Linked DNA regions of Homo sapiens: region 2 is linked to region 1. Evidence: fine-mapped expression QTL. A gene starts in region 1. The other region holds a variant in brackets. All regions are shown on one strand. Distances are between the middles of the regions. Region 1 holds the start of FZD1 (frizzled class receptor 1). Region 2 holds the start of LOC124901695 (a long non-coding RNA gene).

What was found. PIP is the estimated chance that this variant, and not a neighbour inherited with it, causes the effect.
Region 2: its variant is fine-mapped to the expression of FZD1 in whole blood (TOPMed, PIP above 0.99). The same link has a PIP of 0.9 or more in blood mononuclear cells.

The regions. Positions count from the first base shown.
Region 1 is chr7:91,262,929-91,265,834 of GRCh38, reverse strand. It overlaps FZD1 (frizzled class receptor 1), which reads right to left and starts at 1,402. Exons shown (of 1, transcript NM_003505.2): 1 at 1-1,402. The coding sequence starts at 954. RefSeq lists silencers at 658-717, 808-1,317 and an enhancer at 1,438-1,617.
Region 2 is chr7:91,286,216-91,289,121 of GRCh38, reverse strand. It overlaps LOC124901695 (a long non-coding RNA gene), which reads left to right and starts at 1,690. Exons shown (of 2, transcript XR_007060425.1): 1 at 1,690-1,815. The variant C/T (reference allele first, on the strand shown) is at 1,147.

The DNA of each region.
Region 1 (2,906 bases):
GAAGCGCAGCTCCTCGGGCCCGAAGTACATGAGCCCATACACCTTGGTCGGCTCACAAGGTGCGCCGCAGTCCTTCTCCCCCAGGAAGTGGTAGTTGAGGTAGGAGGGCACCTTGAGGGCGCGCGGGCAGGAGAACTTGCCTCGCTCCGACGCGCCGGCGCCCCCCGGGAAGCCGCCACGGTGCCCTCCGCCGCCGTGCTGAGGGTTGCTGGTCCAGAACTCTGGAAGCAGCGAGGGCGTCGGGGTGCCCTTGTCGGACGTGTTCTGGCCCACGCACAGCTCGCCGGCGCCGTGCACCGGGAACTTCTCACACTTGAGCGTGTCTGGCCACTGGAAGCCGAACTTGTTCATGAGCGCCTCGCAGCCCTGGCGCGCGCGCTCGCACAGGGAGCGGCAGGGCGGCAGCGCCTGCTCTAGCACGGTGCACACGGGCGCGTACATGGAGCACAGGAAGAACTTGAGCTCAGCGGAACACTGCACTTTCACTAGAGGGTAGAACTGGTGCACCTCCAGGCCCGCGTCCTCCTGGTTCGTGTGGCCCAGCAGGTTGGGCATGATGGTCTGGTTGTACGCGATGTCCGTGCACAGCGGGATGGAGATGGGCTGGCAATAGCCGTGGTCCGGGACGGAGATGCCCCGCTCGCCGTTGTACTGCTGCCCGCTCTGTTGCTGCTGAGGCGGCGGCGGCGGTTGCTGCCCCGGCCCGGGCCCCTGGCCTGGCCCCTGGCCCGCCGCCTGGGCCCGGACCCCCAGCAGCAGCGGAGCCTCCAGCAGCCAAAGCAGCAGCAGCAGCTGGCGCGCCAATCGCCGGGGGTCAACTGGCGGGCGGCGGCGGCCACCGGCGTCCCCGCTGCCCTCCTCCGCCAGCCGGGCCGAGAGCGCCCCGGCACAAAGTTCCCAGCTCGCGCCACCGCCGGCGGCCCGGGACTTCTTAGGCGCCTCCTCCTCAGCCATACTTTCTCGGCTCCTCTCTTGGCGCCGCTCCGCTGGGGCTGCCAGGGGCACGGCCGGCGGCGGCTCCCCCTGCGGCCAGGGAGACCTCTGCGCGGGTGCCCTCCGTCGAGCCCAAGCCGCTTTCGGCCCGCTCCCCCGGCTCCTGTTCTGCGTACCGCAGCCGCCGCCGCCGCGGAAACTTGCGATTCATGAAGCGCGGGCGGCGGGGAGAACCCGGGTGGCTAGGGCGCGCCGGGGTCGTGTCCCGCCTTCCTGGCCCTCGGCTCGCTGGCTCCCGGCTGGCGGCGCCGCGCTAGTGGCCGCGGCCCCGTAGAGAGCGCAACTCTCCGCAGCCCAGCGGGCTCGGCTCCCCCCTGCGCCTCCGCCTCCTTCTCCGCCGCCGCCGCCTGACCATTTGTGTCAATCCCTCAACTCGCTCCCTCTCCTCTGCCTCGCGCGCCCTCGGACCGGTTTCCAGGCGCCCCGTAGTCTGTCTTTCACCAGGAGGGAGGAGCCTTGAAACCGACGCAGAACTGGAGGCTCAGGGACCGTCGCCCAATCGCGGCTCCGGCTTCCCGGCGCAAAGGGAGCCGGCCGCCTCCTCGCCAGAGCGAAAGCCAGCGGCAGGAGGGCGGGGTAGGAGGAGGCGGGAGGAGGAGGAAGTAGTGGTGGTGGCACTACTCAGGCACAAAGAGTAGGATTGCTCTGAAGCGGGACAGGCTTGGTTGCTTTTGCTTTTTCAGAAGAAAAAGGCGAGGATACGTAGGAGAATGGTCCCATATGCTGCTGGAGATAATGAATAGGAGTCAGAGGACCGCGGGACTTCGCTTTTCTTTTATTTTATCCATTATCATGTTTAAAAATCCTGCTCTTAACGCTGGTTACCAACAGCAAACCGGGTTCTGCTTCCAGAACAGATGCCTTTGACTTAAGGAGCGCACGGTTTCCTTTGAGTTTGTGTCTGTCGAGGTTTTGTTTAACATATTACATTAATAAATCCTCCAGTTCGCAGGCTGGGCTTGGCGGGCTTTGGTCGCGCCATTTCCCCAGAGGAGACGTTCACGGGATCGCTGTCAAATGAAACAAAACACAAACTTTGATGGAATTTGGAAAGTAAAGCCAGATGCGCCTTCTGCTACTATCATTCTTCTTGGAGTCAAACTCCTTTTTTTCCGCCTCTTTAATCAAGTCAGAAACAGAAGCAAAAGAAAACTATCCATTAAATTTTTGGAGAGAAAAACTTAAGAACCCGACGACCGAGGCAGTGGGGGCGCCTCTCTGGGATCGTCCTCGCCGCTCCAGACCGCAGAGGTGGCGCCGGCGGGAGCTGCACTCGCCGGCAGCTTGGGCCCCTGGGGAGCCTTTCTAAACCCTGGGGACGCCCACGGCTCCGATGGGAACTCCTGGGACCTGGGCCATTTAGGTTCCACAGGCTGGGCTGCAGAGCTGGAGACGCCAGTTTAATAAACAAAACAAACAAACAGTCTGAAAGCAAACAGCGAACTGCACATTCTCTTCCTAATTCCAAAACAGCATAATCCGTCTCAACAGACGCACATTAATGTTGTTTTCCTTGTAAGATTATTTTAAATGATGGTTTGACTATGTAATTCAGTTTTATAAGAAAAGTGCCATTGGACTATTAATTCTTCCATTTTTTTTTTTTTTTTGCCTGTGATCAGACTCTATCTCAGCGTACTTTTCACCAATTACTTTCTATCATTCATTTACACATTCATTTGTTTAATAGATACCAACCACCCATTGTGCTATAAGCACTCTTAGGTCGTAGAGTATAAAATGAAGGAGACCTGTGCCAGCCTTAGAGAGGGGCATAGTACAGTGAGGCACAGAAATGCAAATCACTTGTTACAGTGTCCATCCCAAAGCCAAAAAGGCACATAGAAAGCAACCAGCTCAGATGAAATGGGGTTCTGACGGAGAGGTAGGTGCAAGGTGCAAAAGATTAAAGC
Region 2 (2,906 bases), 23 kb before region 1:
TAACCTCTATATAATATAGATTATTATCTGTATATAATATATACAATGCATTATACAAATGGGAAGTATAAGAATTATTGTTACCAAATGCACAAATAGTATACATTCTAATCCAGTTTAACCTTCTACAATTGACCTGATTCTTACATACACATAAACCTAACCAAAGAGTACCATATACTGTATCCTAAATTGATCAAGGTTCTAATTAGGAAAAGGAACAGGGAAATTAAGTTGAAAAGCCTTCTGAGAATACTGTTGAGCTTCTCATCTTTGTAACACATTTTATTCCTGGGTAGTCAATAGATATTTTAGTGGCAGAGCCCCCCTACCTATTCTGCTTACACCCTGCTCCCCGTGCCACTCACTCTTAGCCACTCTCCTCCAAAGTGCCCCACCCTGGCAGTATTGGGCTATCCCTTCTTGGGCACTGTCCCACGCTCTGATAAAACTTATCTGCCCTGTGATCCATTCTTTCAGAACTTTGCCATCTCCTCACTAAGAGAACAGTATCCATGTGCAGATGGCATAAATGCCATTTATTGATGACAAGTTAATGTATGACCTCTGGCCAGGTGTAAGCCTGGGCCCATGAAGCAAGGACTACAGCATCATTGGCAACTGTCCTTCCCCATAGTCAAGTAGGACCCAGCAGGAACCAGTTATTGCTTCTTGAACTCAGGAGTGCCCCCTGCTGGGATCCTACAGTGTTCCCCAATCTTCCTCGGTGTCAACCTCTGTGCCTTGAAATTGATGGCAGCTGACATTTATTAACCACTTGATATGTGTCAGGTTTTATTGTAAGTGCTTTAATTCATGTTTTAATTCATACAATCACCACAACAATCCTGTGACACTGAAATGATATATCAGAATGGAAATCAGCTGACTATCAGTCCTGGATACAGGTTTTATTAATATCCCATCTTGACATTTTGAAGGTGAAGAAATATGCTTTTATTCGACAAATATTTTTGAGCTCCTACTATAACCCAGGCACTGTTCTAGGCCCTGAGCATACTCCTATAAGCAAAACACAAAAACCCCTGCCTTCATAGAGCTTAGATAACTGTGAAGTTAATGAAGAAAATTTTTTGGCAGTGATCTTAAATCAAACCAGACAGTGAGCTACTTCCCCTGCTGGGC[C/T]TTGCCTGTCACAGCTGAAAAGCTGCTTCTCAACTTGTGTGGAGCTATCAGAGTTATAGTCATTGGACTGGCAGTCCAGCTGCTCTCATAGATGGCTTCAGCTCCAGCTTCATTTGCACCCCTGTGGGCACTGGGAGGTGAGTTGCCAAACTTCTTCTCTCATAAAGGCTCCAAGAAGTGGGCTGGGACAACGCCAGAAGAGTTCATAATTCTGTCTTTACCAGCTCTGTGGACAGAGGAAGAGTGCCGACGCCAAAACGTTAAAAAAGTTATAAAGTCACTTGGAAAGAGCTTAAAACAAAACAAGTACACTTTGCAATGGAAATTTCCAGCTACATGTAAGAATTTACTAAAGACAGAACCTCAACTTAGTTTTAAAAAAGAAGGCAACTTCCCTTTGTGAATTAGGAACAAAGTAAATTAAGATCTTGATCTCATGGGTACTCTATTTATAAAGAAACATTCTACCATTAGCATTTTGACAGGACTGATGTGGCCAGCTGTGATGAGGAAGCATTGTGTTTGTAAACTTTACCTCCAGGCTTTTAACATTCAAATGTCCCTTTGAACCTTGGAAGGCTACTATCTCAGAGAGAAAAAGCAGAAAATCAAATAACTAAAGTGAGGGCACATCAGAACTGCTGGGACAGCATGGCCTTGCTAAGGAAGGTAGGCTGCTCTGGGGTCGCCAGTGGATGTTGAATAATTTGCAGATGTAATTTTCTAAACTGTGATGTGGGGTCAGGAGGGGGATGATGGTTGGGGGGACTAGGGTCACCCTAACAATGTAAACATTATGCTGCTATCTTTGCCCTCGTACTCGATTTTTATTTCTTCTGGTAAATTATAGTGTCTTATATTTTTCTGATTTTAAAACAGTACATGGTTAGAATAAAAGAGCAAGCATGGCAAAACTAACAATCGAAGGTGACAGTCCCTCATAGTGTGACAATGCATTCCAGTTTGTCCAGGGCAGTCATAGTTTATATCTGTTGTCTTGGTGTAATTATTAGTAGCAAATCCTTCATTTTCAAAGGCATCTCTGTTTGTACAATAAATTACATGTTACTCTATTCATAACCTACACCCCAGGCAGGCTTAACTATGGTTAACTCTTTCAGTCTATTCTCAAAATTCACCCTTGCCTACTAAATTCAGGAGCTCCGAAAGGTGTTTCACATGTGCTCAAGAGCATAATCTTCACAATCACTGTATGACGCCCCATCTTTCCTTCCCTGAGATTTGCTCTGGCAGTGTGCAGCATCTGTGCGGCATCTATGAAGGCACTCCTGCAGCCCCTCTGCTGCCCCTGTTGGCACTGGGCCACCTCCTTTTACTGTCAAAGCCAGTCAGCCCCACCTGCACTGATGACGCAGTAACATGATACCTCCAGCGAACCAAATCCACTCAAATTGCTGCCAATGAGCCAACTCTTTCTGCTCCACGAAGTCATAATGAATTCTCCAATGAAGTAGGGCACTTTTCATGGTGCATTTTATCAATGTAGTGGCACAGCATGCCAAAGATTTTCATTAAAATAAAAAGTAAAAGAAAAAAGAAAAATCTCTTACAGATTTTTTATGAAAACAGCCCTTTCAGTGTTCATTCTCAGGCTGCCTTCTTAGTTGGCTTTAAGGGTAGATCCACGGGTACTATTGGTGTACATCCCACTCCTGAAAGTTGAGCACTGATCTTCCACCAAGCTGGAGGGATTTGACTCTGGCCTAAGGTAAGTTATTCCCCAGGAGATGCCTTGGTCC